Homo sapiens: one gene and its partners. The protein of the gene in region 5 interacts with the protein of the main gene of each other region in a biochemical or structural test. Each region holds a gene or a part of one and is shown on either strand. Other genes may lie near its edges.

Region 1 (5,071 bases), on a different chromosome or scaffold from region 5:
TCGCTTGAGCTTAAGAGTTCAAGACCAGCCTGGGTAACGTGGCAAAACCCCACCTCTACAGGAAAAAAAAAATTATCTGGGTTTGGTGGCCAGTGCCTGTAGTTACAGCTAGTTGGGAGGCTGAAGTGGGAGGATCGCTTGAGCCCAGGAGGTTGAGGCTACAGTGAGTGAGAGGGCCAATGCGCTTAAGCATGGGCAACAGAGTGAGATCCTGTCTCAAAAAAAAAAAAAAAAAAAGGCTGGGCGCGGTGGCTCACACCTGTAATCCCAGAACTTTGGGAGGCCGAGGCAGGCAGATCACCATCTAATATTACTGTATTAGAAACAGTAATTACAGCTGAGCTAAATAATCTATGTCATGGATGCTCTTGTGTCTCCTCACAGTATCCTTTTTTCTTTTCTTTTTTTTTTTCTTTTTTTTGAGACGGAGTTTCGCTCTTACTGACCAGGCTGGAGTGCAATGGTGCCATCTCGGCTCACTGCAACCTCCGCCTCCCAGGTTCAAATGATTCTCCTGCCTCAGCCTCCCAAGTAGCTGGGATTACAGGCTCCCGTCACCAGGCCCGGCTAATTTTGTATTTTTAGTGGAGACGGGGTTTCTCCATATTGGTCAGGTTGGTCTCGAACTCCCGACCTCAGGTGATCCGCCCACCTCGGCCTCCCAAAGTGCTGGGATTACAGGCGTGAGCCACTGCGCCCGGCAGACATGGATTATTTAGCCCAGGTTATTAGGGATCTGTAACTCTCATGGGTCTGTTAAGTCTTTCTCAATTTGAGACCTCAAGATGGAGATTTCTTAAAGTGTAGGAACTGTCTATGTCTCTCAGCATCCACCTTTTTCGGAGATTCTATATCTAATGACCTGCGAAGTCAGATCAAATCAGTTTGAGAGACCATCTGTGTTTTTCTCTTGGTCTAGGCTCTAGGTAGGATCTCTGACTGGGTATAGGACCCCACCCCTCTGAGTCCTAGAAATTTAAATTCTTGGTTCCTTTAATGAAGGTCTATTTACCAGCCTTTATTGAGAGAAATGTTATAGAATTGAATCCTCCATGAGGAATGTCTCCCATCAGAGTCCCTTTATGTGGCCTTTAGAAACAGTAATAACAGCTGAGCTAAAGTGCTCTGAGACATCTCACAACCTAGACCCATTTCAAAGTAATTAGAGTTCACAGGACCCACGAATCCTTCAGAATAACAAGTCCCAATTTGCCATGCTCATCCCCCTCTGAGGGATAACGTCCAGCCAGCCTCAAGAGCTAGGGGAATTTGATAACCAGGGGCATCTTGTTACCCGGGAATGTTACCGGGGTCTCTGGGGAGGGAACAATCACGGATGGGAGTTTCAGATGGATGCCTGTAGAAGATGCAGCCACTTGGACTGTGTCAGGAGTCCGGCTCCCGCTTCCTTTTTTTTCTCTCCCATATCTGGAAATAATAGGAAATGCCAGCGAGTTTTGGGGGCAACAGGGTCAGAGGTGGCGGAGTGGCTCACTAGGGCACCGCAGGAAGAGGAGGTAGACTAAGCCCCGCTGGGAATACCCAACAGCGACTCCTAGTGCTTTGCCTTGTGTGTCCCTTATTTTAGAGTTCCTAAAGTTATAGAAAGCATAAAAGTTTGGTTTTCAAACCTAGACGTAATTTTGTTCAAGAAGACTAAAAACAGAGTTACTTTCTAACGCCACCCAACAAGTCCGGCGTCTGGCTGCGTTTGTCCCACCGGCGCCCCGTAACCTCTTTTTCCGGCGCGTGCGTCACACGCTCTCTCCTGGGGTCGCCGTACCTGGCTCCTTCTGATTGGCTTAGATGCGCCCGGAGCCCTTCTGATTGGCTAAAATATGCCCCGAGCCCTTCTTGATTGGAAGAAGCGCCTCGGACCCCGGTCCTTGGCGCCGTAGTGGTTAGGTTGAGCCCTAGGCGTGGGGGAGAACTGGGGAAACTGGAATTTCCCGCGGAGCTGACAGCGCTTGCGCTCCCCCTACTCGTTCTAATTCCACGCGCTCCAAAATATCCGCCATGGAGAAATCTTGGTAATGACCCATTCCCCGTAAGCATCCCAGGAACACATCTGACCCTTGCCCTATCCCCCTCCTCACCGCTGCCGTGGGAGAATTCTAGATAACCGATTTTTCTGGTTCCCCCAGAGAATTCTGGGTAACTAGCCGTTTCCGTCACCTTCCCCTGCCCCCGCCCCAATTGTGGGTAACTGGCCATTATTGTTTTCCTCTAGAGAATCCTGGGTAGCTATTGGAGAGGATTCTAGGAAACTGACTTCTCGTTCTCCCCACCGTCCAATCCACCCGTTTTCACCCCCAATTCTGGGAGAAAGCACCTTAAATCCCTCTACCTAACTCCAACCCCCGCAATTCTCGCTCCCTTCACCTGATGATTCAGGGCTGAACAAGGCAAGTGAGCAGTCCGAAGTGAGAAGAAAGGGAAGTCAAGGATTAGGTTAGATAATGGGGTGGTGGAGAGTACAGAGGGCCTAGCGGAGGAGGGATAGGGACAACAGTTCTACCACCTCCACCCCCACTGCCCATCCCTCCCCCGCCTGCTTCATCCTTTGGCTGGCAGTCTCATCCCTCATGCCTGCCTCATCTCCCTCCTGCCCCCATAACCTAGAAGACCCTAAGTACCAGTACCTGGGCCTACCCTTGACTCAGCTACCTCTTTCCCCTTACAGGCCAGGATGTCCATTCTAGGCCCATCGGTGCTGTCTTGCTGAAGGTTGGGTCAGGCATCTAAAGGGACTGTGGTAAGGGAGGGTGTGACACAGGTGTAAGCTGCCATCGTCATCATGAACTTTGAGGGTCTGGACCCTGGACTGGCAGAATATGCCCCAGCCATGCATTCTGCCCTGGACCCTGTCTTGGATGCCCACCTGAACCCAAGTCTGCTACAGAATGTGGAGCTGGACCCAGAGGGAGTGGCCTTGGAGGCTCTTCCCGTCCAGGAATCAGTGCACATAATGGAAGGTGTCTACTCTGAATTGCACAGCGTGGTGGCTGAAGTGGGTGTACCTGTTTCCGTCTCCCACTTTGACTTGCACGAGGAGATGCTGTGGGTGGGGAGCCACGGGGTAAGAACTGTACCCCTTTGTGAGGGTTGAAAGATGTTGAAGGTCTTTATCTGGTCTTAACCCAAGGAAGCTGCTTTGCAGATAGCCAGTACCGAGGAGTTGTAGTGATGAGACAGCTGGGTCTGGTTGGAGGGATAAAGGGAGAATCTAGGATCTAGGAGTAAATGACATATTCTTTCTCAGGAGGCATCCCTTTTTTTTTTTTTTTTTTTCGAGACAGGGTCTTGCTCTGTCGCCTAGGCCAGAGTGCAATGGCGTAATGTGATCATGGCTCACTGCAGCCTCAATCTCCTGGGCTCACACAATCCTCCCACTTTAGCATCTCAAGTAGCTGGGACTACAGGCATGCGCAACCAAGACCAGCTAATTTTTAAAAAATTTTTTAGTCTTACTATGTTGCCCAGGCTTGTCTCAAACTCCTGAGCTCAAATGGTCCTCCTGCATAGAGCTGCCAAAGTGCTGGGGTTACAGGTGTGAGCCACGGCACCTGGCCAGCATCCCACTTTTGTCACAATTGCCCATCCAGTGTTTTGATTTATCTTGATAGTTGTACCCATCACTTAGTCTGTAGCCATCCAAATCTAATCTCAATTGCTGTTGCCCCACCTGTGTTTTCTATTTTTATTATTATAGAATATTTAATGAATGATTCTGCATATCTTCCATTGAATCATTTTGTCTTCTCTGGCTGATTTTAATATCTCTCAGAGCAGTTATCAATCTTAATTTTTTAAAATCTGTACCCGTATTGCCAATATGCTATGGTGCCCAAAGACTTTGTAAGAAATACTGTGCTGTCCGGCCGGGACCGGTGGCTCACTCCTGTAATCCCAGCACTTTGGGAGGCTGAGGCAGGCGGATCACGAGGTCAGGAGATCGAGACCATCCTGGCTAACATGGTGAAACCCTGTCTCTACTAAAAATGCAAAAAATTAGCTGGGCATGGTGGCAGGCGCCTGTAGTCCCAGCTACTCGGAAGGCTGAGGCAGGAGAATCGCTTGAACCTGGGAGGCAGAGGTTGCAGTGAGCCGAGATCACGCCACTGCACTCCAGCCTGGGTGACAGAGCGAGACTCCGTCTCAAAAAAAAACAAAAAACAAAAAAAAAAAAAACGCTGTCCTTCATTTACTGATTGACTTCTTTGGTCATGAATTGTTTTTCCATTAGAAGGGATGAATTTTTGTGTGTGATTCATTCAGTTTAATAGGCAGTGTCTACTGCTATGCTAGGCACTGTGAATAAAGCTAAATAAAACATAATCCTTGCCCTCAAGGAGTTTACAGGACAGTGAGGTAAAAAACATATACAAAACCAGATAATTTCATGGTACTAAGCGCCAGTGTGAAAATCTGTACTGGATGCTGGACAGGATGGAGAATAGTCAGAAAGGGCATCGAGGAGGAAGTAACCCTTGAACTGAGTCTTGCAACATGAGTAGAAATCAGGTGAGAAAGATGGGAAAAGGCGTCTTAGCATAGGATAAACAAAGATTCCCAAGATACTACAAAGCTTGCTGAGTACAAAATTCAGGAACTACAAGCAATTAGGATTTACCGGACTGGAAGAGGTAGACATTTATTCATTCAACCAGTGTTTTTTTGAGCCACATGCTAGGTGTCAGACCTTGCCCTAAGGTCTAGGTTTGGAATAAGCAGTAAACAGAAAAACATTACAATACATCAGGTGTTGATTAGTACTGTTAAGAAAAATGCTGGCTGGGCATGGTGACTCACACCTGTAATCCCAGCACTTTGGGAGGCCGAAGCAGGCGGATCACCTGAGGTCAGGAATTCAAGACCAACCTGGCCAACATGGTGAAACCCCCGTCTCTACTGAAAATATAAAAATTAGCTGGGTGTGGTGGCAGGTTCCTATAATCCCAGCTACTTGGGAGGCTGAAGCAGGAGAATTGCTTGAACCTGGGAGGCAGAGGTTGCAGTGAGCTGAGATCACACCACTGCACTCCTGCCTGGGTGACAGGGCAAGACTCCG
Region 2 (4,309 bases), on a different chromosome or scaffold from region 5:
GCTCTCTCCAGGAAATCAAGGCATTGTATTCATTGAGTAACCATTTTTTGAGCATTTTCGATATTTCAACTGTGGGACTGGGCACTAAGCCAGGGAAGAATGTAAGTAGTTAAATTTATTGATTGCTTACTATGTGCCTGGCACACTTTTCCTAAGATTTTACATGGACTCATCTGATCCTTGAAAAACCCTGTGAGGTAGGTAGTATTGTTATCTCCGTTTTACAGATGGAGAATTTGATGTATAAAGAGGTTAAGTAACTTGGAGGAGACCATATCACTGGTAATTGGAGTAACTTTTTAGGCTTCGAACTTGCAAAATTTGAAAATTTCTTTTGGTAGGCGGGACCCACAGATGCATGCAATACTTCTAGATCAGTTTTTTCATCTGGGCACTTGACATTTTGGACCAGATAATTTATTATTTTGAGGGTTGTTCTGTGCATCACAGGATGTTCAGCATCCGCAGTAGCACTCCCCGTCCAGTTGTGACAATCACCAATGCTTCCAGATATTGCTAGATGTCCCTGGGAGTGGCGCAGAATCGACCCTGGCTGAGAACCACTGCTCTAGATCTTCATTAGGAATTGTAACGTGAAAGCCTCCAAACTTTTAGATGTTGAGTTAATTTAAACATCTTTTGGTCGAGTGCTGTGGCTCACACCTATAATCCCAGCACTTTGGGAGGCCAAGGCAGGTGGATTGCTTGAGGTCAGGAGTTCGAGACCAGCCTGGCCAACATAGTGAAACCTCATTTTTACTAAAAATACAAAAATTAGTTGGGCGTGGTGGCATGCGCCTGTATTCCCAGCTACCCGGGAGGCTGAGTCAGGAGAATTACTTGAACCCTGGGAGCGGAGAGCCGAGATTGTGCCACTGCACTCCAGCCTACTTGACAGAGTGAAACTCTGTCTGAAAAAAGAAAAAAAAATCTTTTAATAACATGGAAGCCTAGACCCTATTATGTAGATCCTCAATTTGGAAGCCCTGGTTTCTGAATGTCAAAGATGTGTTGCCATTCTCCTTTTCCTCTGCTAAGCTGCAAATCCTCAAGACAGTGTGCCTGGTAGCCAGTGCCAGTTAAACAACATTGGCACAAATAATAAATTTAGTTTACTATCATAGGTAAACTGTCTTTTAAAATTCACAGTTGGCCATTAAAATTGTCACATTATGTTAGTATCATGGGAGCCATAATATCTACATGAGGGCGATTACCATTAGAACTGAACTTTGAAGAATGGAATCAGTTTTGAAAGGCAGATAAAAGGGCATTGTAAGAACAACAACAGAAGTAAGGACACAAAAATCCAGAAAGTACAGGAGATTTTGATATTGCAGTGGGTAGTTCAGGTTATATAAGGTATTTGTAGCAAACTGGTTAAGGCCAGATATAGAGGTTCTTGAATGTCAGGTTGAGGAACTTGTGCATAAATTTTTAGGTATGGGAGCTATTGCATGCTTTTTGTTGCGTACTGATGTGATAGAATAATCTTCTGGTCTGGGATTACTAACCAGGTGTATTTATGGGAGAAAACTAGCGATCTAGGCAAGAAGCGATGGAGGCCTGAATTGAAGTGGTGGCAAAAAGAGGTGAGTGAGGCTGGACCCAGTGGCTAACGCCTGTAATCCCAGCACTTTGGGAGGCCAAGGCAGGAGGATTGAGCCCAGGAGTTTGAGACCAGCCTGTGCAACATGATAAGACTCTGCCTCTACAAAAGAATTTTAAAAAATTAGCTGGGTGTGGTGGTGTGCACCTGTAGTCCCAGCTACTTGGGAGGCTGAGGTGGGAGGTTTGCTTGAGCCCAGCAGTTTGAGGCTTCAGTGAGCTGAGTTTGTGCCACTGCATTCCAGCCTGGGAAACAGAGTGCAACCCTGTCTCAAAGCAAAAAGAGAGAGAAAGGAAAAAAAAGATGAGTGTATAAGATACTGAGGAAGTTAAGAATCTGGGATTTGACAGCTGATTAGGTGTCAGAGGAGTCAAAAATACATAGGAATCTTCATCATGGGTGAATGAGAGTTTGACCCAACCTCTGAACAGAACAAGTCAGAGCAGAAATAGGAGTTTGGGGAGAGAAGATGCTAAGTTACATTTTGCAGTTGTAAAAAAAAAATCTACCAGTACTGGTCTAGACCAGTAGAACTCAGCTGGTCTAGTCTGAAAAAATATTTTGGAGGCCAGAATCATAGAATCATTGAATATTTAGAGCTGGACTATGACTTTAGATAGAGATCAGCCAGCATTCTGACTTCTTCATTTCTCAAGTGAGAAAGCTGTGGTTGAAACAGATTCAGTAACTTACGCAAGTTTATATTCTCTGTCAAGTGACCCAGCTGGGATTTAAACAGGCCTTTTGACTCTAATTCTAGTATTCCTCCCATGTGCAGTATTTTATTTTATATTGCACAATAGATAAAATATAATTTTGGTTTCTCCTTTTTTATTCTAAAAGAGTAAAAGCAGTTATCTCAATATGTTATGTTCATTCTAGTGATGACTTTACTATCATGTACTAAATGTGTTTTGTTTAAAGTAGAAGTTAACTTCACGTTATACTGATTTGTCCCCCCATAAACCAACTGTATGTCATCATATAACAAAAGTTGTTAAAAGTGCTATATACCATATAATGTTGCATCTAAACTGGGACACTTATCTGAGATGCTTTTGCGTGGGACAAATGCTATATTAGAAATGACTAGGACTGGCCAGGTGCAGTGGCTCACACGGGTAATCCCAGCACTTTGGGAGACTGAGGCACGTGGATCATTTGAGGTCAGGAATTCAAGACCAGCTTGGCCAACATGGTGAGACCCCGTCTCTACTAAAAGTACAAAAATTAGCTGGGTGTGATGGCATGTGCCTGTAATCCCAGCTACTTGGGAGGCTGAGGCAGGAGAATCTGAACCTGGGAGGTGGAGGTTGCAGTGAGCCGAGATTGTGCCACTGCGCTCCAGCCTGGGCAACAGAGTGAAACTCTGTTTCGAAAGAAAGAAAAGAAATGACTAGGACAGCAGGAGTAAAACCCCAAGGCATTAGGTCTCCGTAGCTAAGGTGGATCCCACTCATGCAATTCATCAACCTTTGTCTGAAAAAAAAGAAAGAAAATCTGATTTTGTTAAGCTTTTCTTTTGCTTTGCTGTGATACGGTTTGCAGGCCAACACATGCATATTGCTATAGGTTGGTGCGAAAGTTAATTGTGGTTTTTGCTCATTTTTAATGTACCAACCCAATATGCTTTTTTTCCAGCTTAATTTGGCAATTAGGTGGTAAATCACTTGATAGGATAAATTAATCACAATCTGTAAACTTAATTTAAAAATGTGTAACAACCCTCTGTGGAAAATTTGAATATAAACATCAAAAGAATACCATTCTGTAAGCTCTTTTGATTTTTGGCATCTGAAATGTCTGAAAGTATAAATTGCAAAACATATTTACAATTTTAATGACAACTGCAAAAGTATTGCCCATGATTGGAAAGACTAAAATGGTATGCGTTATATGTATTCTGTTCAGGCTGATGCATGATAAATCTCTCACTGAAAAAACAGAAATCCCTATCTCATTTTAAAATTTTAAAAAATTGGCCGGGCACAGTGGCTCATGCCTGTAATCCCAGCACTTTGGGAGGCCGAGGTGGGCAGATCACTGGAGGTCAGGAGTTCAACACCAGCCTGACCAACATGGTGAAACCCCATCTTTACTAAAAATACCAAAATTAGCCTGGTGTGGTGGCACATGCCTGTAATCCCAGCTACTTGTGAGGGTGAGGGAGGAGAATCGCTTGAACCTGGGAGGCGAGGGTTGCAGTGAGCCGAAATTGCGCCATTGCACTCCAGCCTAGCCTGGGCACAAAAGCAAAACTCTGTCTCAAATAAATAATCAATCATTCTAACCTTAAGCAAAATTGGAAAAATGTTGCAACTAATACCTGTATCTCTTTACCTAGTTTTAGTGATTATTAATATTTTGCCACATTTGTTCTATCGTGACATTGCACACCAAAGTATGGCAGTAGGTATCTCACAGAATAAGGGCATTCTACCTGACAGCAATCAAATGATCACCCACAGGAAGTTTAACTTTACAATTCTGTCTGGTCCCTATTCAGATTTTCCCAATTTTCTCAAAATTTTTTTTAAAGTTGTATTTGTTCTTTCACTCAATTGCTGTATCCTGGGTTGCATTTAGTTGTGTCTGAAGTTTCTCTTACATTAGGAGCATTTTCCTGCCCTTTTCTGCTTCTCTCTTGACAATGACATTTTGAAATAGTCCAGTCTAGTTGTTTTTGCAGACTGAAATTTG
Region 3 (4,116 bases), on a different chromosome or scaffold from region 5:
TGTACCTACAATAAGTAGGTATCTCTGCATTGTGGGAGTAGTGAGGCCCTATCAACAAAGTCACTGTGCTCTAAAGAGCAAGCCTGTGGCCACTCAAGCAGGTCACGTAGAGCATAGGAGCAAAGGAAACATTTTAAGCATGAAGGTTAGACACAGCTCCTATAAAGCCATTTTAAAAATCTTGAAATTCAGCCAAGAATCCAGGAAACACATCAACAGTGCCCAAGAGTGACAACTGCATTTAAGTGTAATTAAAATTAAACCACATTAATGTAGTATGTAAACATACTAAATTTATGTCACCATAATCCTAACCATGCTAGACTAGAAATAACCTCAAATTTTGGCAGTTCCTCCAGAGCAGATTGTCATGTTCACTCATCATTCACATAAAGTGGAAACTGAACTCTCCTTAGCATCGTTTCACTCCATGAGTCACTTTCAGCCATTGACTATCCAATCTAGCAATCCCAAACCTTTCCATGCTTATTTTGACTAAATCGAGACTCAAGTACCATCATCTTTTCTATCTTCAAAATACATATGGCCATGTGTCAAAATTCTGCCCTAAAAACTTATGCTTATTTTGAGTTCATGACTGGAAAGATTATCCAGAACCATACTTCCTTACAATGCAAAAAATTCTTAATCATACTGCAAACCTTCAACTTACTGAAACAAAAGCTGAATACGTATTTGTTAGATTGAAACGTATCAAACCGCTAGTATGGCTCAATCTAACCAAGCACCTATACACTTGTGGTAGCAGCCTATTGCAGCAGTGTGTACAGTAAGCATAGATGTCTTATTACCTGTTTTCAGAGATAAGGTCTTGCTATACGTTGCCCAGGCTGGACTTGAACTCGTGGGCTCAAGCAATCTTCCTGCCCCTCAGCTTCCAAGTAAACTAGCACTATAGGACTATGTAATCATCACACCTGGCCCAAATAGTCTTGATTCCTTCCCTAAGTATATACTTACCATCACTTGTTGGACTACTGACACACTTGACTTTTATCCTGCTCATTCTTCCACTGTTCAACCATCCTTCATAATAGATACTTCAAAGAACAAAGAGACTCCCACCCATGTCAAATTGTTCAAAGTATAAGCCAATTTCTAATACATGCTGTATTATCAGTAAGGGCCTTTTAGATTTCCGTCTATTACAAAAATCCTGTTTCACTGTATTTCAAACTAATACTATCTTCATCTTTCATTGCAAATACTTATGGTATGAGTCATTCTGTATCCAAGAGGCATCTCAAAAAATAGCACTGGATGACAAGCAAAAAATAACATTTTACAATTTTTCAGGCAAGAGCACTTTATTTACACCTCTGAAAATAAACCACAATTGACAACAACAAAGGAGACTGTGCAGTTCAACTTTTTATTTTAATAAAATCAGAATATGCACAGCACATGCAGTGCTAGCATCTAAACTAATACAATAAGCAATTACTAAAGCTACAGTGACTTGAGGTTCAATCTTTACATTCAGCAAGTTTAAATCCTTACATGATTTTTGAAACCTTATTAACTGAAAATATTGCTTGCTGATAAAACTTGCTCAAATGCTATTGCTGAATGTACAAGTCACTGATTATGCCAATACAACAAAGATAACCACATGTTTGAGGATTGCAATGTGCCAGACATTCACTGAAAAAAAAAAAAAAACACACAACTAAACAAAATCCACACAACAAACATCTGAGAATCTGGACACTTCACATCAGTGTTTTGAAGTGTTTCATTAATATCTTAAGACAAGTGTATCAAAACCTTGGCATGATTTAATTTCAAGTCGCCAATTTTGTTTTTACTAACATCAGAAAGTTATGGCTACACTGCCAACGCCGGGTCTGCTTAATTTGACTTAAGAGTTTAATATGACTTAAACATTAAAAGCTCACACTACCCCGAAATATATAATTTCACGCATACGGTGACATTCAACATTCAAGTGCCAGTGTTTTTGTACTGTCTTTTGGTCAAGTTTCTTTAAACTTTCAAAGAATCACTTTTAGGCTTACAAAAATAAATATTTGTCAAAATGTTCAATAAATATTACATAAAACTAGCAGCAAAAAGTATCTAGAAATCTGTCGTGTGCAAATAGTTTTCTTCCCAACTATCATTCCCATGGTCCCAAATAAATTTTAGAATCTAGTCCCATCCCCTTCCTAGACAAGCTGCGTTCAACAATCTCCAAGAGACAAAGTAAGATTGGAAGTTTAAGGACACGCACACAAGACATATATATAAAATTCTCTGAATGTGCAATAAAAGAAGTACTTTGTAAAAAGTTATGGGCAAAATGTACAAGGGCCTAAACCTAGACTAATTGAAATAGCACCATAACAAATGACCTCAATACTGTCAAGTGCACCTACTTAATAAAAGTTTTAGAACAAGGCACAATACACTTGAAAATCTATTGCACTTTAGGAAATTTTTGCCGTCTTCCTATGCCACTGTAAAAAGATGGAGCGTTTTGATCACCGCATTCTGGCCACAAAATTAGCACAGAATTCAAAGTGGCAGAGGCATTTTAGTGGTGGACAATGCTCATCTTTGGCCAGATTTAGCATAAACAGACTATAAATACAATGGAAACCTATGCAACTAAAACTGACTAAAACTGCACTGTAGAGCAGAATTGACACCTTGTGCAGTTATGTACATATTTCCAACCTGTGTGATCTCAAAGATTTCAGTTTGTTACTCTTCTGGAGCCATTTTTACGAAGTCTATAGTAAGCCAGTTTAACATCTCAACGCAGCTTGAACAGAGTAATGTGAATCGGCATTTAAAATAAAGCCTGCTGCATTTAATTCTTCCTGTTCATACCCTCTTGACCAAAAAACATCAACACTAGCATGCGTTATTAGACCAAAAATCATCCAGGGCCCTAATGAGGGCTGGTCATTGCTGTGGTCAGCCATTCTACCATTTCAATTTCATTTATGGCAGGCATTTAAAAAGTCTAAGTAGATGAATTCTCCTAAAAACCTATTTCAAGTTATCAGACCTTTAAACTTTCCCTGTAATAGTATGCCCACATTTGGCTAGCTCATAATTAATGATCTGCCTAAACGTTGAAAGAGGAATTGCTGTATTTACTTGCATTAACTTTGAAAACAGTGCTTTGAATGTATGCATGTATTCATACATCACCTCATCATGACTGGAATGGCTTAAAGACTATCAGGTTCTAAATACCTATCCAGGATAGAGTGAGCAAATCAGAACTTTAACTTAATACAGTTTGCCACATTAGAAACTAATTCCATTAATATGCTTCAAGACATTTGTTGTTTTCCCCCAATCTGCAAGTATCAAAAAGCCCTAATGCAGGCTACCGCATAAGTTTTTCCTTATATTATTTATGGATGAATCGATGATTCCTGTTAAGTTGTATCACACCTGTGTGCCAAGGTTTGATTTTAGCCCAAGTTCAGTAAATTTATTTTGTCAAAACAATTGATATCTTGAGCATTACTGAGCCAACAGGACATCAAAATAAAAAGTTGTCTAAAGTTAAAGGCACAGTACATTAACAAACAAATGATCCTCAGTCACAAAATTATAAATGCAGTTTGGGATGGGGGTAGGCGGGAGGGGAGTTAATCCAAACTACAGCAATGAAGTCTTCAAACCACCTTCTGAACAGGGCTGCTGATTGTTCCTTTCATTTCTTCTTGTGACCTTGAGCTCCCTTAAAAAAAAAATTTCAGTGGAGAATCACAGCTGGTAATGTACTGCGAGTTCTTGAAGCTACACAAGGTATAGTCTGGCTAAGTTACATGTGGTTTCCATATTAGCTTGTTTGGCAGGGTGACCTACTGCAAAGCAGGCTCAGTTACCCCACCAGTCAACCCCCTGGGAGTTATAATTTCCTCCATATCCATCACTGTTGTAAAAGCCTCCATAGCCACCTAATGAGAGATTTAAAAAGAGAGAGAAATTAATGAAGTTATCCATCATTAAATACAATCCTTCCCTTACGTAATTTGCCATCAAGTTTCTATAGTGCTGAACTTAAATTGTTTAATTAGGCTTTGAAAAAGATGACTAAAAGGAAAAAAACCCTTCCCAAAGCTATGAAGT
Region 4 (4,309 bases), on a different chromosome or scaffold from region 5:
ACGCCCGTAGTGTAGTCCCAGCTACTCAGGAGGCTGAGGCAGAAGAATCGCTTGAACCCAGGAGGCGAAGGTTGGAGTGAGCCAATATCATGCCACTGCACTCTAGCCTGGCGACAGAGCAAGACTCCATCTCAAAAACAAACAAACAAAAAAATATAGAAGTAATGTGTTAATGGACTCTCCTTCCTTTCTCAGGTACCATGCATTTCACGGTGGCCTTGTGGAGACAACGCCTTAACCCAAGGAAGTGACTCAAACTGTGAGAACTTCAGGTATGGTGTCATCCTGTGAGAGAAATTGGGGGCAAGAGTGATGCAGAGGCCAAGCTCTGGTCTTATACCTGCTGTGAGGAGAGAGCAGTGTTGATGCTAGCTGCATCAGTTGGTTGAACATATAGGCAGCTTCACTTGGTTCTGAAACCCAAAGCTGCCTCTGCAGGGATTAGCCTGTGAGCCACACTGTGCTCTTAATTTGGGTTTTCTGACTTTTCTGTTTTTGTAGATCCCTTATACATATGCATACTTTTTCTATTTGTGTTGTTTTATACACGTTTATCTCTGTATACTATCTAGACATGTGCATGTGTAGGATTAAGAGGTGGGTAATGAAAAAGAAGACAACATGGCCAGGTGCAGTGGCTCATGCCTGTAATTCCAGCACTTTGTGGGGCGAAGGTGGGAGGATCACTTGAACCCAAGAGTTTGGGACCAGCCTGGACAACATGGCGAGACCCTGACTCCACACAAAATAAAAAAAAATCAGCTGGTGTGGTGGCGTGTACCTGTAATCCTAGCTGATTGGGAGGGTGACATGGGAGGATCACTTGAGCCAGGAGGTTGAGGCTGCAGTAAGCCATGATCACGCCACTGCACTCCAGCCTGGGTGACAGAGTGAGACCCTGTCTCGGAAAAAAAAAAAAAAAAAGACAACATGGTTCAGTGCAGAAAGAATAGAGGACTTGGAAAGAAAAGATCTGGGTTCCGATTTGATTTTGCCACTGACAAGCTGTGTGACTTTCGGCGAGTTATTTAATCTTGCCAGACCTCAGTTTATACATCTGTAAAATAGGTAAGTATTGATTCCTGTCTCCATCCCTGGCATTGTTGTGTGGATCAAATAAAATAATACCTATTAAATCTTTAGAAAAGGAAATGAATTCATGACTTAAAATGTTATCTTGGCCAGGCACGGTGGCTCATACCTGTAATCCCAGCACTTTGTTTGGGAGGCCAAGGTGGGCGGATCACTTGAGGTCAGGAGTTTGAAACCAGTCTGGTCAACATGGTGAAACTCCATCTCTACTAAGAATACAAAAATTAGCAGGGTGTGATGTCATGTGCCTGTATTCCCAGTTACTTGGGTGGCTGAGGCAGGAGAATCATTTGAACCCAGGAGGTGGACACTGCAGTAAGCCAAGATCGTGCCACTATACTCCAGCCTGGGCAACAGAGTGAGAGTCTGTCTCAAAAAAAAAAAAAAGAAAAGAAATGTTATCTAGATCCACAAGGTGAGAGAAGTTGAGAGTAGTATTGTGAAGGAAAACATGAGGACAAGACAGATCACTTTAAAAGGTCAGGAGAGAAGGAAGACTACTGGGTAAGAAAAAAAAAGTAGAACATAAAGTTAAGCAGTAAGAGAATAGGGAGTGAATGAAGTTGAGCAGGTGAATTGTTAGATAAGAAAGCTGAGGCTGGGCGCGGTGGCTCACGCCTGTAATTCCAGCACTTTGGGAGGCCGAGGCGGGTGGATCACGAGGTCAGGAGATCGAGACCATCCTGGCTAACAAGGTGAAACCCCGTCTCTACTAAAAGTACAAAAAATTAGCCGGGTGTGGTGGCGGGCGCCTGTAGTCCCAGCTACTCAGGAGGCTGAGGCAGGAGAATGGTGTGAACCTGGGAGGCAGAGCTTGCAGTGAGCCGAGATCACACCACTGCACTCCAGCCTGGGCAACAGAGCCAGACTCCGTCTCAAAAAAAAAAAAAAAAAAACTGAATAGGAAGATACTGGTAAAATAGAACTAAAATATGATCCAGCATTGCCACTTTTGGGTATATATCCAAAGGAAATAAAATCACTTCTTCTTTTTTTTTTTTTTTTTTTTTTTGAGATGGAGCCTTCCCCAGGCTAGAGTGCAATGGCACGATCTTGGCTCACTGCAGCTTCTGCCCCCTGGGTTCAAGTGATTCTCTTGTCTCAGCCTCCTGAGTAGCTGGGACTCGGGAGGCCAGGCGTGCACCCACCACACCTGGCTAATTTTGTATTTTCAGTAGAGACGGGGTTTCACCACATTGGCCAGGCTGCTCTTGAACTCCTGACCTCAGGTGATCTGCCCGCCTCTGCCTCCCAAAGTGCTGGGATTATAGGCGTGAGCCACTGAGCCCGGTCCTGTTCTTTTTTATAATCAAGAGAAAGGAAGGAGATGGTGGAATGATTTGTGATAGCTACTATAAAGCAATTTAAAAAATATTTAAAAGTATTATTAAAGTATTTAAAATATCTTTAAAATATTTCTCAGCATATCCATTTCATCTCAAGCTCACAAAGCAGTTCTTTGTGGAAAGGTATTTGAGCCAACATTCAGGAAACCTGCGTTCTACCATTGGTATTACTGGTCACTTAAATTCTGTGATCTTGGGCAGCTCACTTAAATCTCCCTGGGCCTGGTTTCCTCACTTATCTATTGAATGTTTTGAATATGATTTCTCAGGTTCTTTCCAGCTCACTCTATTATATTCTGTGCTTTATGTGCTAACTCACTGATTTTTCATGGCTTTGTTGACATCACAATATATGACTGATATCAGAAATATCTTATAATAAGGCTTCGGCCGGCCGCGGTGGCTCATCCCTGTAATCCTAGCACTTTGGGAGGCTGAGGCGGGCGGATCACGAGGTCAGAAGATCGAGACCATCCTGACTAACATGGTGAAACCCCGTCTCTACTAAAAATACAAAAATTAGCTGGGCGTGGTGGCGGGCGCCTGTAGTCCCAGCTACTCGGGAGGCTGAGGCAGGAGAATGGTGTGAACCTGGGAGGCGGAGCTTGCAGTGAGCCGAGTTCACGCCACTGCACTCCAGCCTGGGCGACAGAGTGACAGAGGGATACTTTGTCTCAAAAAAAAAAAAAAAAGGCTTCATAATGTCTGATGCTTTATAAATGAGAAACCATGTTATTTTAAGTTCTACTTTTTTTTTTTTTTGAGAGGGAATCTAACTCTGTCACCCAGGCTGGAGTGCAGTGGCGCAATCTCAGCTCACTGCAACCTCCGCCTCTCGGGTTCAAGCAATTCTCCTGCCTCAGCCTCCTGAGTAGCTGGGATTACAGGCACCCGCCACCATGCCTGGCTAATTTTTTGTATTTTTAGTAGAGATGGGGTTTCACCGTGCTAGCCAGGATGGTCTCGATCTCCTGACCTCGTGATCTGCCTGCCTCAGCCTCTCAATGTGCTGGGATTACAGGCATGAGCCACCGTACCCGGCCTTTTAAGTTCTACTTTAAACATTGGCACTGAGAGACCTGTAGGAAACGTAAGTATAGAAAGTTTAAGTTTGTAATATTTGACAAGGATCTGTTGAGCTGCTATTGTGCTAGGTTCCAAGGGGTACTCAAATATAAAACTCCTGGTTTAAGGATTTTGTCAGGAAAACAGACTTCCTTGCCAGTGATTGATTATTATAAAAAGGAAGTTGGTAAATGTTACAAGAGTTTCATTGCATTGCAATTTAAGAAATTAAGTTCAGATTTTTTGGTTCCTTTAACATGATTGAATGTATTCCTTTTTTTTTTTTTTTTGAGACGGAGTTTTTCTCTTGTTGCCGAGGCTGGAGTGCAATGGTGCAATCTCAGCTTACTGCAGCCTCCACCCACTGGGTTCAAGCGATTCTCCTGCCTGAGTCTCCCAAGTAGCTGGGATTATAGGCATGTGCCACCACGCCCAGCTAATTTTGTATTTTTACTAGAGATAGGGTTTCACTGTGTTGGTGAGGCTGATCTTGAACTCCTGACCTCAAATAATCCACCTGCCTCGACCTCCCAAAGTTCTGGATTACAGGCATAAGCCACTGCACCTGGCCAAATGTATTTTTTTTTTTTTTTTGAGGCAGAGTCTTGTTCTCGCCCAGGCTGGAGTGCAGTGGTGTAATCTTGGCTCACTGCAACCTCCGTTTCCTGGGTTCAAGCCATTCTCCTGCCTCAGCCTCCTGGGTAGCTGGGATTACAGGTCCCTGCCACCATGGCCAGCTAATTTTTATATTTTTACTAGAGATGGGGTTTCACCATATTGGCCAGGCTGGTCTCAAACTCCTGACT
Region 5 (4,309 bases):
GATGGGAGTGATCCCTTTAACCCTAGGTTAGCTAGAGAAGAGAAGTGTGTATTAAAAGAAGTGGTTTTTTTTTTGTGATTGTAGTTAGAGGCTTATTCATATATTTCATGGTGTCATATCTTAAATTATGGCCCTATTTCTATTTTGTAGTGTGCTTTTTATTAGGGATTCTGAATATTCTCATTAACAGTAACAAAACCAACCATCAGGCTTACTTAATCTGAACTTTATAAAATAGAATCTAATGTTATAGTCCTTGTATATCTTATTAGATTTGTTGGACGATTTAAGTCTCGTAAAGAACGAGAAGCTGAACTTGGAGCTAGGGCAAAAGAATTCACCAATGTTTACATCAAGAATTTTGGAGAAGACATGGATGATGAGCGCCTTAAGGATCTCTTTGGCAAGTTTGGTAATGTGTCTTAATTAAATTTTTACACACAAAGCTCTGAATTAGTGCTCAGTGTTAATTTTAGCTATTACTTTATACTAAAAAAGTCAATAAAATTAGACTTACATGGTACTTTAAAATATTTGTGGTTATTTGAATTAAGCTGCTGGCCATCTATTACACTACAAAGTAGTATAATGCAAATAAATAGAATTCTATCCAGGTTAAAGGTTAATAGCATTAGATTAGCACAGTAAGGTATGACTAAGTAATTAGAACAGATTTTAAAATATTTTACTACATTAAGAGGCTGGAGATATATATGTGTGTGTGTGTGTGTGTGTGTGTGTGTGTGTGTGTAATTAGAGATCCCATGTCATCAGAAGCATATATTTGACACAGCCAGCCTACAGTGGAATGCAGTCTCATAGAACAATAAAGCTGGTCAGTCTAAGTAACATCATGTTTGAGCAGTTTAAAACAATGACTTTCAGCGATGAAACCAAAAATTCAGATTTTCCAGTGATTCAAAGTACTTATTTCCTGCATTTAAAAATAACTTCATAAAACTTGAAATTGATGAAGCACAAACCAGCCTTAGTTTAGGTAGGGGTATAACAGATAAAATAACTTTTAAGTGTTCATGTGCAGATGATTTGCTTGACCCCACCCTTTGCATTTTGTGTTGAACTTAGAGGTGTCTTGCTTTTTTTAATATGTCAAATAATAAAGAATTAGGAAATCTAATACTTTTTTTTTTGACTCTTGCTCTGTCACCCGGGCTGGAGTGCAGTCACGTGATCTCGGCTCATTGTAGCCTCCGCCTCCCGGGTTCAAGCAGTTCTCCTATCTCTACCTTGAGTAGCTGGGATTACAGGTGTGCGCCACCATGCCCAGCTAATTTTTGTATTTTTATTAGAGACGGGGTTTCACCGTGATGGCCAGGCTGGTCTCCAACTCCTGACCTCAAGTGATCCAGCCACCTCGGCCTCCCAAAGTGCTGGGATTACAGGTGTGAGCCACTGTGCCTGGCCAGGAAATCTAATATCTTACTGCCATGCTAGCATGTCACATCAAGCCCTCCACTAGAGCAAAAAAGTACCATTTTGCACAAAGATAGATGATATAAAACATAGAAAGTGACATCATGTTTACATCTCAACCCCCAAATTTAGCTACTGCCTTTTATATATTTCAACTGTCATGCTTCTTAATGTCTTATAATTAGAAGCTGTTTGTAAAAGTTGATGTTAACTACCTACCGTATGAGTAATGCTGCATAAGTTGACCACAAATATGTGAATATGTCATATTTTCTTGACTTTGGCCTCAGGAGAGAGGCACATTCAGAAGAAAATCTGCCTTGGCCCATACATCTTCTAAATTTCTGTAATCAAATGTGATTTTTAACCTTTTCTGCCCCACTTGCCTGAGATACCACCCGCCTCAGTTACCTGTCTCTCCTACTTTAGAGGGAGTTAGGGGAAAACATGTCTTCAGAAATAAATGCTTCCTCTTCCAGGTAGTTCACCTGTGTCTTTAAAAAGAATTTTTTTTCCCTGTCTTTCAAATTCCTGTATTACCTATGTCTTACCAAAGAGTCCAACTATGTATTCCTTCCACTCCTGTTGAAAGTCGGGTAGGCCAAGGCTTAATAAATACTTGTTTCTTAATTGATACAAAGAAAATCAAATTGGTCTTAGCACAATAGCTCATGCCTGTAACCCTAGCGCTTGGGGAGGTCAAAGAGGGAAGATACTTGAAGCCACAAGTTTTAGACTAGCCCGGGCAACATAGCAAGACCCTATCTCTACAAAAAATAAATTAGCCAGGCATGGTGGTATGTGGGCCAGTAGTCCCAGATACTTGGTAAGTTGAGGCAGGAGGATCACTTGAGCCCAGGAGTTGAGTTAAAGTGAGCTTATTCATTGTGCTGCTACACTTCAGCCTGGGCAATGGAATGATATACTGTCTCTATAGAAAAGGGAAAAAATCAAATTATTGGGTAAAAAATGCAACTCTTTTGTGCTAGAGCTGAGAATAAAACTTTTTACAGCCGTTTAAAGTGTACCTCCTTAAATGGAAGGAGGAATCCTTCAGGGGAGGGAAGGTGTTTACCTTCTTAATAATAAAAGGTCTTTCAATGGAAAAGTATACCTACCTGGGGCATAGAAGGCTGGGAGGGAGGAGTCAAGTTACGGAGCTTTGAAATTTTTTTCATGGCTTTGTATGTTGAAATTTGAAATGTATAACGTGAATGTTGTATGGAATATCTTTGATTTATGTAAAAAAATTTTTTAGGGCCTGCCTTAAGTGTGAAAGTAATGACTGATGAAAGTGGAAAATCCAAAGGATTTGGATTTGTAAGCTTTGAAAGGCATGAAGATGCACAGAAAGTAAGTGGTCTGTATTCAGCAGGAAGAAGGGGGTACAAAGTTGAGTTGCTCTTGTGTTGAAGTCTATGTGCATACTAATAGCTATTTGACATGTTCTTATATTTTCAGTTATTTGCATTTTATGCATTAGGTTTGAGAGTATAAATTGGTAACCTATATTGTCCCAAAACCTTGAGATTTTGGGATGGGTTTGTCTTTAGCTTTTGTGACTTAACAAATTTGTCTTAACTGTTAAGGAAATGAACTGTAAGTTGAAAGTTTTGTGATTTTTTTTTTTTCTTTTTTTTTGGGGGGAAGGCTGTGGATGAGATGAACGGAAAGGAGCTCAATGGAAAACAAATTTATGTTGGTCGAGCTCAGAAAAAGGTGGAACGGCAGACGGAACTTAAGCGCAAATTTGAACAGATGAAACAAGATAGGATCACCAGATACCAGGTTCATTTTTAATTGAACAACCAAAATAAGACAGGGATGAGGAAACCTATTTTACGTTGATTTCAGTTACTTCCAGGTAGCTGGAGGGTTTGAGAGGGGAATAGGAGAAGAAATATGGGGTAAAATAATAGACCCGATGTACTTAGGTACCACCATGGTTTTCTTTTTCTATAGTTTTCTTTTCTTCTTTTTAGGGTGTTAATCTTTATGTGAAAAATCTTGATGATGGTATTGATGATGAACGTCTCCGGAAAGAGTTTTCTCCATTTGGTACAATCACTAGTGCAAAGGTAAGAAAACATATGGTTCATTTATTTGAGGTCTAGTAAAAATTCATACATGTAGATATATGTATATAAATTTTGTATTATTATAGCCACTAGAGAGGTGTTTGCTTCGTTACTTCTAAAACTTAAATTCACATTTGAACTGGTTGTCATAGCCTAATGGTTAACTTAAAAATGGCAAGCACTGAACTCTTTGCTAAGGAAGGCTGATATCCTCACATGATATGCACTATTCCAACAACTAGTCATTTTGCTAAAGCAAGCAATTTATTAGGGACTTATAATTGTTACTATAGTTCTGATCTGTTTATTCATTTCTACAATTCATTCTGGGTAGTCAAGCCCCAGTTCCCTCCCCTGCCCCCTAGCAGTAAGAATAGAGATCATATTTTCTTTTATTTGAAATCAGAGATTAAGAAACAAAGCAGTAGTATTCTAGTACAAATTCTGAAATCTTGATTTAAGAAGTTCTCTTCTAGATGTTTTTGTCTAGCATCCGTGGGCCAAGAGTCCCCCTATATGCAAGGTTTTGTGCATACATAATTTTGCTGGGGTTGGGGAAGAGTGCATAGAAAAAAATTACAACTCAACTGAACTGGAATGACGCTGTGGCTGATCTTTCTAGTCAGCTTTTCCTGGCAAGTCCGAGGAAGCTTCTGTGAGAGTGAGGAAATGTTAGGGGAAAGGTGGTTGAATACAAGTAAGATGGAAGTGCCATGGTTGTCTTGTGTTTCAGATTATGCTTTTTATGTAAGAGTATTGGAGTACGATAGAATTTATTCCTGAATGTTTTTGTCTTC
Region 6 (4,309 bases), on a different chromosome or scaffold from region 5:
CTTTTGCGTCAGCCTCCCGAGTAGCTGGGATTACAGGCGCCTGCCACTACACCCAGCTAATTTTTTGTATATTTTAGTAGATACAGTGTTTCGGCATGTTGGCCAGGCTGATCTCGAACTCCTGACCTTGTGATTCACCTGCCTCGGCCTCCCAAAGTTCTGGGATTACAGGCATGAGCCACCGTGCACAACAGCCAGTTTTGACTCAATGGGCAAAATGAAAATTTAGGTCCATTGCCCACTTTATACAATGCTGTTGAATTAATATGGGTGACAGAAAAATGGCTTTCATTCATTGACGTTGGAATTTGTTTTTTAAAAAACTTAGAAAATGATCTGTTTACTCATTCATTCTGCAAATAATTACTGAGTGCTTTTCACATGCCAGGTGTTGATAAGTACAAGTACAAGCCTAGCAGTAGTGTGAAGATTTTCTCCAGACACGACTGCTGAAGTTAGAGAATAGATGCAAGGGGCTGGCTGGTGCTCAGGGTGTTGGGGGGTTAAAAAGGGTGGACACCTAGAGAGATAACAGCTTCTGCAAAGACCACGGGGCACTAGTGGACATTGGCATATTTGGGGAACAGCATAGAGAGTACTTTGACATGGTTGGAGTGTCGTGTGCTTAAGGGAAGAAATAATCTGAGAAATGAGAGGTAAGCTGAAAAACTAAGCCTTGACCAGATGCAGAAGAGTGTATAAGCCACGTTTGAAAGTCTTTTTCCTGAGAACAGTTGAAGGGTTTTAAGTGGGAAAGTCACTTGTTCAGATTGGATTTTTGAAAGACGATTCTGGTGTGTTGTGGAAACTGGCTGGGACATTGCACGTCAGACCAGATGATACTGTAGTAATCTCAGGTCATAGTGGCCTGAACTGACAACAGAGTTGGGGACAAATGAATGAGTTCCAGAGGCATTTAGGAAGATTTTGGAGGAGTTGGTCATTGGGTATGAGAAGATGGGGTTGGAGAAATGTAAAATAACACCTGTGTCTCTGCCTGGCTTCTTGTGGGAATGGTGCCACCATTCGTTGAGTTAGGGTGCATTTAGATGAGGCACAGGTGTGGGGTTGAGATTATGAGTTCAGTTTTGGAATCATTGAATCCTGAGATATCCAGGTGAAAGGCTGGAGTAATTACAGGTCCGGTCTGGAGATAAAGACTTAAGAGTTACCAGTAGTTCCAAATTTACCAAATTTTTTTTTGTTCTTTTTGAGACGGAGTCTTGCTCGCCAGGCTGGAGTGCAGTGGCACAATCTTGGCTCACTGAAACCTCTGCCTCCCGGGTTCAAGCGATTCTCCTGTCTCAGCCTCCCGAGTAGCTGGGATTACAGGCATGTGCCACCACGGCCAGCTAATTTTTGTATTTTTAGTAGAGACGAGGTTTCACCATGTTGGCCAAAATGGTCTTGTTCTCTTTACCTTGTGATCCACCCACCTCGGCCTCCCAAAGTGCTGGGATTACAGGTGTGAGCCACCACACCTGGCAAGATTTTCCTTTTTAAGTTGATTTCTTTGGTAAGGTGTCCAAAGATGGCATACCTGTACTATGCAGTGCAAGGTGCTGTTCAGTGCTATTAAGGGAATACTGTACTATTTTATAAAGATAAGGCCATATACTCTCATTACCATAATGATTATTAGAAGTACCAAAGGAGTTTGAGGGAGGAGAGACACTGATTTTAACTGTGTTGATCAGAGAAAGCTTTGTTGAGGACTTTGTATTTGAGTGGAACCCTACAGATTGGGCAGAATGGTGGTGAGTAGACTCATGGCAGGCTGTATTAGCTAGAGTAAGGTGGAGGAGGACTAGGTGTGTCCAGGGAGGATTGAGGGGAGGTTGCACACGTGTACAGGAGCTGAGTGCCTGCTGAGTAGTTTGTATTGCTATGGTAGACGGTGGGGACCTGTTGAAAATTTGATGGCAGTGCAGTGAGAATTTTGATATGGCAGTGGTGCAGAGGAGGACTTGGTGGGGGGGCACTGATTAAAGGAAGAATTGAGAGACAGGCAGGCCAATTAGGGGATAAAAGGACTGTTATGAAAGGTCCTGCTATAAGGCTATGGCCATGCAACTAGGGACCAGGTTTTTAAGGTGAATGATGGGAATCTTCAACCAAAAGGAAGATGACGCATTCCAGGTCAGACTTACTGAATTGGAGAATTTGGTGGGACTTGGCAATGGAACTGGTTAGCAGGCAGCTGGCAGTGTGGATCTGCAGCTTGAGAAAGAGGTCAGAAGTGGAGATAAAGACTTGGAAGGCTTCCACGTGGAAGTGATAGTCGAAGGTAAGGGAGAGGATGAGGTCACCATGGGACTGTAAAGAATAGAAAAAAGAACTGAGAATGAGACCTTGGGGACGGGAAGAGAAAGAGGACCTGGGAAAGGATAAAAAGAACGGTGGCTCTGAAGGACAGTCATTCCTCATCACAGAAGATGAGGGAAGAACTGTTCGATCACAGGTGTGGGCAGCAGTTCAAATGCTGCACAGGAAGAAAAGTATTTGGTTATGGCAACATTCCCGAACCTGGTGTTGGGAGGTGTTCCAGTGTTGGTATGGGAATCATTCGATGGCGCCAGCACCGCCCAGTAGGAACAGAATGCAAGCCACGTGTGTTATTTTAAATTTTCCAGGAGTCACATTAAAAAAGTAAACAGTCCAGGCACGGTGGCTCACACCTGTAATCCCAGCACTTTGGGAGGCCGAGGTGAGCGGATCACAAGGTCAGGAGATCGAGACCATCCTGGCCAACATGGTGAAACCCCGTCTCTACTAAAAATACAAAAATTAGCCGGGCGTGGTGGCGGATGCCTGTAATCCCAACTACTTGGGAGGCTGATGCAGGAGAATTGCTTGAACCTGGGAGGCTGAGGTTGCAGTGAGCCGAGATCACGCCACTGAACTCCAGCCTGGGTGACAGAACAAGACTCCATCTCAAAAAAAAAAAAAAGTTAAAAATAAAAAGAAATAAGTGAAATTAATTTCAGTAATATCGACTTTATTTATGTAAAATATTGTTAATTCAACATATTATTGATTTTAAAATGTTAACGCAACATTTTACGTTTTTTTTGTACCAAGACTTTGAAACCTGGTGTGTATCTTAGGCTTACAACACATTTCAGTTCAAACATAAAATTTTCATTGGAAATACTTGATTTGCTTTTAGATTTCATAAAACTTACTACTTTTTCATGGAAAAGTAGGTTCACATACCCACGTTTTTCCAAACATAAAAAAGTTTTCCAGCAATGGAAATGTCAGTTTTTAAATTTAAATTAATTAAAATACAGTTAAAAATTCAGTTTGAGTGGCACTAGTCTCATTGCAAGTGCACAGTAGCCACGTGCGGCTACTCTGTTGGACAGCACAGGGAGGGTTATGCGAAGTAAAATAGGCTACTGTACAGCGGATGTGCACTCTGAAAATACCCAAAATGGTTTAGCACCATCGCAAAGCATTTCACAGGATTAGTGTTTCTTAGAATACATGTTGGCTTATCCTAGTGGAATTTTTAGAATTTAGAAGGGTCAAATCTCTAATTTTGAATGTGAGGAGACAAACTTTTTATGAAAATACACAGATTCCAAAATTTGAAATAGTGTTTGGGCTACAGTCAGCAGAATGGTACATTGGTAGAAGTTCCTAAACATACCGGTTTGTGCCATGTTTCTGAAATGCTTGGTGCAGAGGCTTACACTTAAAAACAGATCCAGCAGGAGGGGTGGGAGCGTTCCTGTTACTGTTTGTGAGTTTCTTTTGCACTCCCTGGAGTCAGTGAGGTGGTGGCTTCAGGTGGGGGGATGAAGTTAGGATTGCTTTAAGTCAGTGTCCCAGCGTCCCTGTGTGGTGGAGGTGTGAGGTGGGAGAGGGTGCCACCAGGCTAATTATGTTGTGCTTGTCTCTCACTTTTCTTATCTCACTTTTCTCCGTTTAGCCCCGTTTAGTCATTGTGTACTTTTTGCCGACCTGGGCCAATTGAACGCATATTTACTAAATATGGGTGGGTTTTTTCAGTTTATAAAAAGCAGGTTCAAAGATTTTCATTTAATTATCTCATTGATTGAGACTGCTTTGCAGCTGTTAACTAGACCATCTAAGTGATAACCAGTAAAGATAGAAAGGATCTTGAATCTGGCCGGGTACGGTGGCTCACGCCTGTAGTCCCAGCACTTTGGGAGGCTGAGGCGGGTGGATCACCTGAGGTCAGGAGTTTGAGACCAGCCTGGCCAACATGGTGAAACCTCGTCTCTACTAAAAATACAAAAAATTAGCTGGGCGCCTGTAATCCCAGCCACTTGGGAGACTG
Region 7 (4,309 bases), 1.7 Mb from region 5:
TTTTTGAGCATTCCTTTTGCTTCAGCTATTTGAGAAATTTACAAGTAATGTATCTTTTTAAATGCTAACTCTTCTTTTTCCATTCCTAGTATAAACAATCAGCTTTGTTTGATTCTTCTATCATTATACAACATTAAAAATATTTAGATCATAGTGACTTTTAATTTCATGAAATTAGGAAAAAAGTAGACTTGAGTCATAACATGTGCATCAAGGTGGCAGATATTTGAAAAATAGAAAGGTGCCGTAGGTGAAATTATAAAGAGCTATATGGTTGTATCTAGTAGCGGTAAACATGTCTTGCCTTTTGAGATTTGTGAAGGCAGCATTTAAGATAGGCACATATCCTAAGTTTTGAAGTAGCTGATTTGTGGCAGGAGCTGTTCTGTGTTTCCCTTTCAAAAGGAGGGCTCCTTTTTGCATACCTACTTGTAATAGGATCAACCTGTCACTTGAGAAAAATCTGTTTCCAAAAGAGACTGGTTTTCTGGAACCTTTTAATTAACTAGAATAAGCGTATTTTCATCTAAAGATAAAAACTTTACCAAGTTTTAGTAAGTTGGGGCAATAAAAAAGCTACTGCTACTGTAGCTTGACTTTTTTTATTATGAGAAATGTATGAGAGTCACAAATAAAATGATAATCATAGTTATGTATGAAAAGGGTGTAAATAGACTTTATACTTTGGAATAAAAGTAGTAAGATTAGACAGGCAGAATGGTACTGCAAATAAATTGCTCAGCTGAAGAAAACTTGGTCCTCAAAACAGTAGTGTTTTCTTCAAATACGTTTTCTTTCTTTACCCACATCCTCTTAAAAAGTCAAATATTTTGTTCAGCATCATAGTCTGATGTCTCAAGTGTCTAAAATGTACAAAGCATAAAAAAGTATCTTTTTTTCATAATTTGTGTTTTCAGACTTGCCAATAATGAATAATAATGATGCCAGGATGAAATTGACAAATACAGGTGGGGATGGCTGGGGTGGAAAGAAGAGGATGTTGGCTGTGACTTCCCAGAATGATTACAAGGTGCCTGGCACAGAATGCTGGGCCCTCAAGCAAATATTCATTGAGCTGAATTGAAACCATTCAGTGCTCAGATACTTTGGACATTTTGATCTCCTTTCCAATGGATTTCTTGAGTTAGTACTACGTTCCTGCTTAAAACATTGTCTCAGAGAAACAGTAAAACAATATAAAGAATGTGGTTCGTCGAGCTTGAGGGGAGAGCTGAAAGGCCTGCCTCACTAATAGCCTGGAAAGTGCCTCACTAATGAGCTGAAAAAATAGGCACAGAGATTTACAGTGTTTATGCAGGGATACAACTACTGAGAGACAGCTGAGGTCCACCTGATGGGTCTTCTGACTTTTCTTTAAAGTCCAGGGCTCCATTCCACTTCACGTGGCTTGTATTCCAGAATGGTTCTGCTGTCTCAGACATCCCAGCCTTCAGGCAGTGTGGCCACCTGTCTTAGTGTTTTGATTCCGTTTTCCCCTCAACTGCTCTTTCCAGGGCTCCTAATGGGTTTATGCCTTTTTTTCAGAGGCTGACGCTCTTAACCTTTTCTTGGTACTAGGTTAGGATAGGTCTTCTTAAGGTGATGTGGTTATGGCATTTATTGTCCTTGTCCTGAATTATTCCTCAAGATGCAGGTTAGTTACGAAACAAACCAGTTCTTATTGCTTGTCTGTATGTGGAATTTTCCTGTGAGATTTGCCTTTTGGCATTACAACGTATTGTGCAGTCATAAACAGTCTTTATTGAGATTGTCATATCAAAAGGATTTTTCTCTAAGCTTAGAGTTTCCCTTTCAGGTGTCATAACACAAGGTAAGATACTATAGACAGGAGTTTCAAACTCTGCGCTGGTAGCCTAGTCATTTAACCTCTTAGAACCCCCCACATCAATCTCTGAATTAGGTGTAGCACTCTCCTCAAGGTCAGGGAGGAACAGTTGAGACAGTAGATGGGAAAAGATCAATATTATAATGTGGATTCTACGGAAAACATTACGAAGAGATGGTTACTTTTAACTTTTTACGTGTTGCCTGGTTTCCAGATAGCAAAGCAGGAACTCAAAAGAGTTGCCCTAGAATATCCTTAGCATTCAGAGCAGAATCGACTCTTAGTTCTAGATTAGTACTTCTCAGCTTGGTGTGATTTTGCACCCTCCACACACAACCCCCTCCCCTTATTGGGCAGTGTCTGGAGACATTTTTTATTGTCACAGCTGGGGCATTGCTACTGGCCTCTAGTGGATGGAGGCCAGAGATGCTGCTAAACATCCTATAATGCATAGGATAGCCCCCACAACAAAGAATTACGGGGTCCAAAATGTCAGTTGTGCTAAGGTTAAGGAAGCCCATCCTAGATGATCTTCAATGCATTTGGTTGTAAAAATAAGTGAAAATGACTTTTATGAAGAATATTTCAAGCAATATACGTTCTTTTTTTTTTTCTTTTTTGAGACACAGTTTTGCTTTGTCTCCTAGGCTGGAGGCAGTGGCCGGATCTCGGCTCAATGCAACGTCCACCTCCTGGGTTCAAGCGATTCTCCTTCCTCAGCCTCCCAAGTTACAGACGCATACCACTATGTCTGGCTAATTTTTGTATTTTTAGTAGAGATGGGGTTTCGTCATGTTGGCTAGGCTGCTCTTGAACCTAACCTCAGGTGATCCATCTGCCTCAGCCTACCAAAATGCTGGGATTACAGGCATGAGCCAATGTACCTGGCCGCAATATATATTCTTAATTTTTAAAACATGACTGTTTAAATTAAGATTAAGGCCCGGCCAGTGGCTCATGCCTGTAATCCCAGCACTTTGGGTGGCTGAGGCGGGCGAATCACTTGAGGTCAGGAGTTCGAGACCCCTTAGCCTGGCCAACATGGTGAAACCCCATCTCTACTAAAAATACAAAAATTAGCTGGGTGTGGTGGTGGACGCCTGTAATCCCAGCTACTCAAGAGGTTGAGGCAGGAGAATTGCTTGTGCCTGTGAGACAGAGCTTGAGCCCGTGAGGCAGAGGTTGCAGTGAGCCAAGATCGCGCCACTGCACTCCAGCCTGGGCGACAGAGCAAGACTCTGTCTCAAAAAAAAGGAAAAAAAAATTAATTAAGATTGATTAAAATTAAATAAAAATTTAAGTCACTTCATCTGTAGCTAGTCACATTTTAAGTGCACTGTAGTGCCACGTAGCTACTCACTACCACATTGGACAGTGCAAATACAGAGCAGTGCCATCATCACTGAAAGTTCTCTTGGATAGTGTTGGCATAGAAAGTGTGTTTTTGCACAAGTCTTGGCATTCAGTGAGTGCTCATTATGTTTATTAAGAACTTTGAGGTTTTAAAGACTCAGGCATATCTTCACTCAGTAGGAGCCAGAAAATATGCCAGGGATTATATGAAGCATAACAAAGGTTGTGGTGAGTAGAGGTTATAATAGTTGAAAGCTGCTTGAAATTTTATTGTGGTGCACCAAAAAACAAAAAAACAAAAAAATCAATAAAAAAACCCCCCAGACATTAGGTTGTGTGGGATGGAGCATCATATTACCAAATCAGTGAAAAATCTCACCATTTGATTATTGAGATTGTTACCTAAAAGCAATACTAAATGCATTATGCCAGGTGCGGTGGCTCATGCCTGTAATCCCAGCACTTTGGGAGGCTGAGGTGGGCGGATCATCTGAGGTCAGAAGTTTGAGACCAGCCTGGCCAACATGGTGAAACCCCATCTCTACTAAAAATACAAAAATTAGCTGGGCATGGTGGTGCATGCCTGTAGTTGCAGCTACTCAAGAGGCTGAGGCAGGAGAATTGCTTGAACCTGGGAGGTGGAGGTTGCAGTGAGCCAAGATTGCGCCACTGCACTCCAGCTTGGGTGACAGAGCGAGACTCCATCTCAAAAACAAAAACAAAACCAAAAACAAACAATAAAAAACCAATACTAGATTTATTGTATTGGAAAAGTACAGTCTGGCCTAACTAAAATGTTTAAATGAATTTGCTTAAGTAAGATTAACAGCAGGGTGTAGAATAGCCAAGCAAAATAGAAAATCAAAACAAAGGCAGAGCAATTTTATAAATCAGGATATCTGTGACTGAATCATAGGCCTAGGAATAAACAGACACTTGTGAAGAAAATTACAGGATACACAGGAATACGACTAGGAATAATAGGTGAAATTAGGAAAGGTCAGGGTTTTTTCCCCTAACAATTAGACCATTAGGTTATTTAGGAAATAGTTTCCAAAGGAAAATTTAATTGCTGAAGACTGAGTTACATGGACGTAGATCTTATAAGGT

What was found.
Region 1: the proteins of PABPC1 (region 5) and PAN2 are reported together in a solved structure, tested with the Homo sapiens proteins (2 studies listed by BioGRID, with this or other methods).
Region 2: the proteins of PABPC1 (region 5) and TNRC6A form a complex in vitro, tested with the Homo sapiens proteins (2 studies listed by BioGRID, with this or other methods).
Region 3: the proteins of PABPC1 (region 5) and DDX3X form a complex in vitro, tested with the Homo sapiens proteins (one study listed by IntAct).
Region 4: the proteins of PABPC1 (region 5) and ITCH form a complex in vitro, tested with the Homo sapiens proteins (one study listed by BioGRID).
Region 6: the proteins of PABPC1 (region 5) and TNRC6B form a complex in vitro, tested with the Homo sapiens proteins (one study listed by IntAct).
Region 7: the proteins of PABPC1 (region 5) and UBR5 are reported together in a solved structure, tested with the Homo sapiens proteins (one study listed by BioGRID).

The regions. Positions count from the first base shown.
Region 1 is NC_000012.12:56,330,821-56,335,891, reverse strand, and holds the start of PAN2 (PAN2-PAN3 deadenylation complex catalytic subunit PAN2), read left to right. Parts: upstream 1-1,891; 5' UTR 1,892-2,030; intron 2,031-2,173; exon of another isoform or gene 2,174-2,405; intron 2,406-2,683; 5' UTR 2,684-2,797; coding exon 2,798-3,079; intron 3,080-5,071. UniProt on the Homo sapiens protein: Catalytic subunit of the poly(A)-nuclease (PAN) deadenylation complex, one of two cytoplasmic mRNA deadenylases involved in general and miRNA-mediated mRNA turnover.
Region 2 is NC_000016.10:24,732,294-24,736,602, forward strand, and holds part of TNRC6A (trinucleotide repeat-containing gene 6A protein), read left to right. Parts: intron 1-4,309.
Region 3 is NC_000023.11:41,347,468-41,351,583, reverse strand, and holds the end of DDX3X (ATP-dependent RNA helicase DDX3X), read right to left. Parts: intron 3,945-4,116; coding exon 3,865-3,944; 3' UTR 1,310-3,864; downstream 1-1,309. UniProt on the Homo sapiens protein: Multifunctional ATP-dependent RNA helicase. The ATPase activity can be stimulated by various ribo-and deoxynucleic acids indicative for a relaxed substrate specificity.
Region 4 is NC_000020.11:34,369,199-34,373,507, forward strand, and holds part of ITCH (E3 ubiquitin-protein ligase Itchy homolog), read left to right. Parts: intron 1-195; 5' UTR 196-272; intron 273-3,503; exon of another isoform or gene 3,504-3,528; intron 3,529-4,309. UniProt on the Homo sapiens protein: Acts as an Acts as an E3 ubiquitin-protein ligase which accepts ubiquitin from an E2 ubiquitin-conjugating enzyme in the form of a thioester and then directly transfers the ubiquitin to targeted substrates.
Region 5 is NC_000008.11:100,711,565-100,715,873, reverse strand, and holds part of PABPC1 (polyadenylate-binding protein 1), read left to right. Parts: intron 1-272; coding exon 273-412; intron 413-2,692; coding exon 2,693-2,787; intron 2,788-3,084; coding exon 3,085-3,222; intron 3,223-3,416; coding exon 3,417-3,512; intron 3,513-4,309. UniProt on the Homo sapiens protein: Binds the poly(A) tail of mRNA, including that of its own transcript, and regulates processes of mRNA metabolism such as pre-mRNA splicing and mRNA stability.
Region 6 is NC_000022.11:40,183,802-40,188,110, forward strand, and holds part of TNRC6B (trinucleotide repeat-containing gene 6B protein), read left to right. Parts: intron 1-4,309.
Region 7 is NC_000008.11:102,405,910-102,410,218, reverse strand, and holds part of UBR5 (E3 ubiquitin-protein ligase UBR5), read left to right. Parts: intron 1-4,309. UniProt on the Homo sapiens protein: E3 ubiquitin-protein ligase involved in different protein quality control pathways in the cytoplasm and nucleus. Mainly acts as a ubiquitin chain elongator that extends pre-ubiquitinated substrates.